Linked DNA regions of Homo sapiens. The protein of the gene in region 2 interacts with the protein of the main gene of each other region in a biochemical or structural test. Each region holds a gene or a part of one and is shown on either strand. Other genes may lie near its edges.

The links.
Region 1: the proteins of NFIA (region 2) and LHX2 form a complex in vitro, tested with the Homo sapiens proteins (one study listed by BioGRID).

The regions. Positions count from the first base shown.
Region 1 is NC_000009.12:124,017,952-124,021,767, forward strand, and holds part of LHX2 (LIM/homeobox protein Lhx2), read left to right. Parts: intron 1-3,147; coding exon 3,148-3,353; intron 3,354-3,816. UniProt on the Homo sapiens protein: Acts as a transcriptional activator. Stimulates the promoter of the alpha-glycoprotein gene. Transcriptional regulatory protein involved in the control of cell differentiation in developing lymphoid and neural cell types.
Region 2 is NC_000001.11:61,456,464-61,460,143, reverse strand, and holds part of NFIA (nuclear factor 1 A-type), read right to left. Parts: 3' UTR 1-3,680.

The DNA.
Region 1 (3,816 bases), on a different chromosome or scaffold from region 2:
GGGCCGCGCACTTTGCGCCTGGGTTTGCGCGCCGCGGCCGCGGGAGTCCCGCGCGGACCGGCCGGACGCCCGGCCTCCCCCAGCCCCAGCTTTTTGTGTGTGTGTGCCTGGCGGCGTAATTACTGATTTGATTCCAATCCATTATTTAGACAATTGAACCTACAATCTCGTCTTTAGTAAAATGAGGCGAAGTCAGATTTGATTACAGGTTCAGTCCCAGCGACAAGAGCTCGAAACCCGATGGGTTAATAACAGATCACGAGTAAATTATTCATGATTTTACGAGCTCTTTAGCTCCATTGAATCGGCCTAATTGAGAGGAAAAAAAAAAAAAAGGAGAGAGAAAGCCCGGGTCCTCCCCCTCCCCTCGGCCCCTCGCTCCTCCCCGGATCCGATCCTGGGGAATCTCGACCCGCCCCCGGGCACTGGGGGCGGGAGTGAGGGGGTTCGGGGCGCCGGCCAAACCTGGGCCCCACGGCTGCCTCCCCCGCCGCCGCCCCCTGCCCTTGCCTCTGGCCGGCCTCGGCCTCGCTACTTAGGGCCGGCTCCTTTCCCTTTTTCTCCACTCCCCTTCTTTCCCCTTTTCTCTACTCCCCCGCCAATAACGGCTTCGGAAAAGGCCTCCCCCGCAGGGACCGGGTCTCCCGGAGCCCCGGGATTCAGCTCGGCCACCGGACCCTCGCCACAAGCTGCGCCTGTTTCCGGGACTCGCTTTCCCCTCCGCTCTCCCTATTTCTTGCTGTCTTTGTAGCTGTCTCTCTGTGGTTCTCCTGGCTCCTTCGCTTTCTTTTCCTCTGTCTGTCCTCTCTTTTTCCTGGCTCTGTCCATCTTCCGTCCCTACCCCCTCTCTCTTTCTCTCCCTCCATTCTGCCTTTCTGTGTTTGTCTTTTTCTCTCCTTTCTCTGCCCTTTCTGTCCCCCTCCCCCGCACTACTACCCCACCTAGGCGGCACTCAGGGCAGGTCCCTTGGGCCCATGGGGGCGCCGGGGTCCCCACGGAGCTCATTAACAGCAGCCAGGCCCAGGCGGGGGCTCGGTGGAGGGATGGGCCCAAAGATACCCCGTAGGGAGGCTGCCCCACCCCCAGTGGAGCTGGGGACTGGGGGAAAGAAAAGGGTTGCTCACCTCAGCGGGTTCCAAGCAGTTCTGGTGGATCAGGTTCAGAGGCATCCTCTGATCCCCTTTAAATTGCCGGACCCGCGCTCTTCACTCTGGGCGTGCTCTCTGTGGGAATGCAGCCCCGGGGGTGAGGGGACCTGAGTGCCGGTGGAAAGAGGCCCCTAGGAGGTGTAGCCCCTAGCTAACAGCTCCAAAGGCAGGGGCAAGACTTGTATCTTGCAAATTCTCTCTGCAAGGGGCTCTTCCCCATCTGGGCAGGGGAAGGGGGAGGTCACCAGCAGAGTAAAAGTCCTTTGGAGGTAGTGTGGCCAGGCAAAATGCAGCATCCCCAGTTAAATTGGAATTTTGGGTACGTAACAAATACATTTTTAGTGTAAGTGTCCCCGGCAATATTTGCATTTTGGAAAAATAACGAATAAATTTGAAATTTGTAGTATAAGTGTCCCGTGTAATATTTGAATTTTAGATAAATGACAATTTTTTAGCATAGCTGTGTCACCTGTAGTATTTGAATTTCAGGTAAACAACAAATACATTTTTAGTATAGGTATGTCCCATGCAATATTTAGGACATGCTTATACTAAAAAATTACTTATTATTTTTCTGAAATTTATATTTAACTGGGCAACCTGTATTTTCATTTGCTAAATCTAGAGCTCTGTTACGGGTATGTGATGAGGGCACAAGATACCTTCTCAGTTCTCACTTTAGGCGGACCGAATGTACACCCCTTATGAGGCTTACCCCAAGGCAAGACCTTAAGTGTGGCATGGCTCGGGAGGTGCCATGAGGAGGCGACCTTGGGAGGGGTCCTGCAGGTCCCCATCAGCTTCCAGGTGGCTGAGCAATTTTCTGAGGCCCAGGTTTTCACCCATATTCCCCACCCCCAATGCCAGCCAGGCATTGGCAGCGTGGCCCCCATGAGGCTCCTTGTGGTTAGGGACAGGCTCCCTCCTCCCTTCGTGGTGTAGTGGAAGAAAACAAGGAGTACTCCAGTGCTAAATCTAGGCTCAACAGATCAAGATCAATCTAGCTGGTTACCGGTGGTGTGGCAGTGTGCAAGTGGCTTCATTTCCCTTAGCGTTAGTTTCCACATCTCTAAAATGGGAATAGTCATAGCCACCTCTCTGAGAGGTAATGATGTACAGTGACATTTGTAAAGCCAAACACACACCATAGGTGTCTACTACATGTTTATTTCTGCCTCGGACTTCCTTCCCCGTCCACTCTGCCGCTCTCTGTGGACTGCCGCAGATCTCTGAACTTCCCCGAGCCTAATTTGCTCCACTTGTTCACGGAGAAACAATCATCTTACAGGGTAGCGATGAGGATTAAACTGCAAAATGCAGTTTCCAACCTTTGGCCCAGTGCCCAAGGCCCAGGGGTCCCTCAGTACTTTTGGGTGTGGCAAAATGAACATGAATCTCTGTTTCAGCAGTTTCTAGGTGCCGGTCCCAGACACGGTAGGGGGAGACGGCAGAAAGCACTCCTCCTTAGAGTGCCTTGGAAAACAGGAGGAGGGCAGGCCCAGAGACCCTGTCCTGCTGTGTCCAAAGTCAAGTGACTTCCCTTGCTGAGCCTCAGTTTCAACATCTGTAAAAACGGGAAAAATAATACCTGGTGCTCCTAGGATTGTTTTAAGTACCTAAAGAAAATGTGCCTGGAAAGCCCTTTAACACATCACCTGGAGTTCAATCGGCCATCAACAAGTCGTAGCTGTTGTTGCTGCTGCTGCTGCTGCTGCTACTATTGTTCTTATTGTAACATAATGGCTCAGAATGATTTTTGGATTCTCCCAGAGCCGGGATTCAGTGCTGCAGTTCTTAGCAGTGTGATCCTGGGTGGATCGCTGTCTCTGAGCCTCAGTGTTTCCATCTATAAAATGGGGATGATGTCCCCCTTTCATTGTGGCGCAGACATGCAGCAGGGTTAAGGATTGAAATGTTTGGCAGTGGGTGGGGCGAGTGTGGATTTGGCATGGGGGGCGGGTCAGGAAGTTCACCCACCGGCTCTGTGTCTCCTCCCTAGCGCTAAGCTGCAACGAAAACGACGCAGAGCACCTGGACCGTGACCAGCCATACCCGAGCAGCCAGAAGACCAAGCGCATGCGCACGTCCTTCAAGCACCACCAGCTTCGGACCATGAAGTCTTACTTTGCCATTAACCACAACCCCGACGCCAAGGACTTGAAGCAGCTCGCGCAAAAGACGGGCCTCACCAAGCGGGTCCTCCAGGTCAGCCAGGGCCAGGGGTGAGGGCATCTGCGACCACCAGGGACTGGGGTGGAACCCTGCACCCCTCGCCGTGGGCCTTGGAAGGACCTTCCACCCTGTGTCTGCTTCTCTGTGTGTTTAATCTTTCTCATTCTCTTTCTTCACCTCTCCAGCCTGTCCCCATCTGTATTTCAGTCTTTTTTTTCTTACTTTGTCTTTTCTCTTTTTCAGTTTTTGCCTCTCTGTTTTTCTGTTTGCGTATCGCTCCATCCTCATTGTCTCCACACTCGGTCTCTTTTCTTTCTTCTAAACAATTCTTAGTTTCTGTTTATTATTCAAGTGACACTCATTTTACACACATTCACATCATAAAAGGTTCAAACATTTCAGATAAATCTAGAGGCCGCCCCACCCCATCCCAGGACGTACACCCAAGGTGACTATCATTAGCTCCTGCTTCTTGCTTCTTACCCACTCTAGTTTC
Region 2 (3,680 bases):
CCTTTTTGAATGAAAGCTGAGCCGGTGGGCAGTGCAGCTTTCTGAGACTGTCTTTGGACAGATCTCGAAGGGTGGGTTTTGAGGTGCCACTGAAGCTCTCCTTACATTACTATGGTGGTTGTGTTTTAGATTTGTTCTATGGAGGCCTGCTACCAGAAATAAAAAAGAAAAGAAAGAATGAAGACAAGAAAGAAAACAGAAGCAAACAAAAAGAGAGAGAGAGAGAGAGACTCCACCACCACTATGGACAAAGATATTTCTAGAGACATGATGCAAAGTACATTAAATGACATTCTTAGAATCCCTTTCCCCTAAAAAACAAAAAAAATTCATAGAAAAAAAAGGTTTTTCCTTATCCAGGTTTTGTCAGTCCTTTATGCCACTGTAACTACAGGATTCAAAGCTTATGGGGCTAAGGGCTTGGAAAAAATCAAAGACAAACTTTTGGAGATGGGTCTTGCATATTCCTGTGGGCTGACTGAACACCGTGGCTCGGGGAAGTCTGGGTTCCTTCACACTTTGACTGTCAGAAAATGAAGATCACAAGCTCTGGGAGGTGTAACCTTGTCGGCCTGCCTAGAGCCCACACCTGGCGGCGGCAGGGACGGGCCTGGGGAGCGGGCTGACCACACGTAACTGTCATGCCAGGGTGTGAAGACACAGAACATCAGTTCAAACCTCAGAGGAAAGAGAAGGCTCTCTAGCATGGAGAGCGTGGCATTACTGGGAGGCCCTCTGCGCACGAATGATCAGAAAAGGGGCGTTTTGCTGGCAGGGACAAGGGCCAGAAGAAAAAGTCTACAGAAAAATGCTAAGAGTTAGTGTTCGTGCCTCTGACTTCAGTTCCCAAAGAAAAAACAAACAAACAAACAAACAAAAAACACAGAAATTTGAGGGACTCATCTTTGCCCAATCTTGTTAATGCCATTTGATGGGAAAGAAAAAATTCAAATGTGTCTCAGAGTCAAGGGCTGGGCCTTCAAATGCTGATAGCTCTCAGTCTGTCTGTCTACACACCCCAGGTAGCAAAGTCTTCCTCAAGCATCTTCACTATGCTTTTAAGCTAAAAAGCAAAAACACTGGCAACTGTTGGTGTTTCTTTTTTCCTGCTTGATCACAACTGAATAGTTTCCTGCTGCTTTCTGGACAATGAAACATGAACAAAAATGTAACTTCGTGTATTTAATACTTAACCCCTGTTCGTTATCACCCTAGACTGCCTCCCTAATGTTTTAAAGCCTTTAAAACATTTTTTCCTGCAAATCTGTTCAGAGTTCCCTAATTTTAGCTTCATCAAACTTAATACAACAAAATACCTTCAAAAATACAGCATACCTGTAACGTCCATTTACAATGGTTTTTCAGTAGACCTATACTTCTCAAGCATAGGAATATGCTATACCATTGAGAGAAAAAAATAATTGTATTTAAATACTTACAAAAAAAAAAAAAAAAAGGAAACAGGAAAGTTTTAAACTTAAATCCAGTTCCCAAAGGGGGGGTAAAAAGAAAGAAAAGCAATTCTATGAACGCTGCCTTTATAATGAACGATCAGAAATTTTACTAGGCTAATTTGACAGAAATTTTTCCTCATTTAAACAACATTACAAAAGTCCTGCATTATAAAATAGGGTAGAATAAATCAGTGTAATCAATAAAACTATACAACAATACAAATTACATATCTTCTGAGCGGGCAGTTTATTCTCTCTCTTTGCAGTCATGACTACAACATGCTCACTAAAAACAACTAAAACTGCCCAAACTATTGCTTAGTTTGTTTTGTTTAAAAAAGGGTGCAATTTTATTGTATATACAACCAATTTACTGGTAATACCTTGGCTTATTGCAAGGTTCTGACAAAATGTTTGTCTAGGCTTTTTTCCCTTCACTGTGAAGCACTGAAAGCTGCTATTTTTTCTTTTTTTTTTTCTTTTTTTCCTTTTTTTCATTTTTTAGTGCACATATGTCATAATAAAGTAATGCCCAGCTAAGTGCTATAGGGGAAGGCAAAGTATGCTGGCTGGCTATAGGAAGTGACACCATACACTGACAATCACACCATACAACAGCGCCAAACGACTATTCAACCACTTATCAGACACATATGAAAATCCAAAATGTTTTATTTTATTTTTTTTTCCTTAAATAGAGATAACCAGTAAACAATTTTCAGAACTTGGAAGTTTAAAAACGTGCATATAAAAATGGGCATTATATACTTTTTATTGAATGTGGATTGACTGCAGTCTGCTAAGAAAAATGGGGTGTGGGAGCTGAAGAAAAAGGAAGTTGTCTTTTTTTTTTTTAAGGCTTGCTTGTGAAAGGAACAGTTGTAAAAACAAAATTGCTTGAAGCAGGGTCAGCTTAGTGCTTCACAGTTTGACTGCTTCTCTAAGAGGAGCCCTTCCTGCGCACGTGCATTCAAAAATCACAAAAAAGTACAAAGACAAACACCTAAAACACACTGCGTCAAGTGCAGCACCGACTTTGGTCAAATAAAAAAAAATAAAAGAAAAATTAATAATTGCTAAGCTTTTCTACATGATATAAGCAGGTATTGCATATTTTCATATATCTGGGGGAAAATAAAGGAAGACTCCAAATAAATTGTAAAATGCAGCAACATCCAAAATACTGATATTCTAAGCATCTACAGATCTCAGAATAGCACTGCCACCGACCGTACAGGACAATAAAGACTACTCCTATCTGCGGAACAACTAGCTTTCTATTTAGTTCTAGATGTTGAAACTGACGATGGCTGACATAAAAGTCACATTTACAAAAAGTGTCTCCAAATGCTTGACTAGGGAAAAACCCCTTTCAATAGAGGAGCATGTGCAACAATTCCACAAATAATCGCTATCCAGGGCAAGGCACATTGATATGGAATTTTTGTTTTCGTGCAAATTAAGGAAAAAAAACAAAACAAAACAACATTGTTTCGGGGAGAAAGATGAGGAGCAAAGTGTCTTCCCAAGAATTTCAGTTACTTGATTGTATAGGACAGTAGTAGAACCCTTCTGAAGGGCTGAAAAACATAGTTTAAAGGCAAGTGCCTAGAGTAGGGATTACAATATTGTGTCTTAATGCACTCTACTTTATCCTACATTAACTATATAAAAATTAGTTACTAACACTAGAACATGCAGAGACTTTCTCTGATCAGCAGGGCTTGCCAACCAGAACGTATATATATGTATAGTATAGGAAACCTTCTTGAAGTCGCATGGGAAGCAAAGGGGTGCTTCGCTGTCTGGTAGAAAAATCACTTGCACTTTTTTTTGTTTTTGTTTCTGTGGTTTTTTGTGTTTTTTTTTTGTTTTTGTTTTTTGTTTTTTTTTTCATAAGATACAGGACGTTTGGGGGTGCAAACTTTTTTTTTTTTCCCTAACAAGTACCCTTGATCTGAATGGGCACCAGCATTTGTGTCAGTATTGGTTTCATCATTATTATTATTATTATTATTACTATTATTATTTCCCATAGCCCAGTTCAGGGATGCAAAGGTCTTTAAAACTTCTGGACAATCTCTGGTACAATGAGGTGTCTGATAACTGATAAATCCTATGATGCCAGATAGGTGTAAAATTTTTTAGAATTGGCGTAATCCATTATAGTGACTTCTAGCTTATAAAATTAACAGATACCATGATTTCATTTTAGTCATGTGCTTT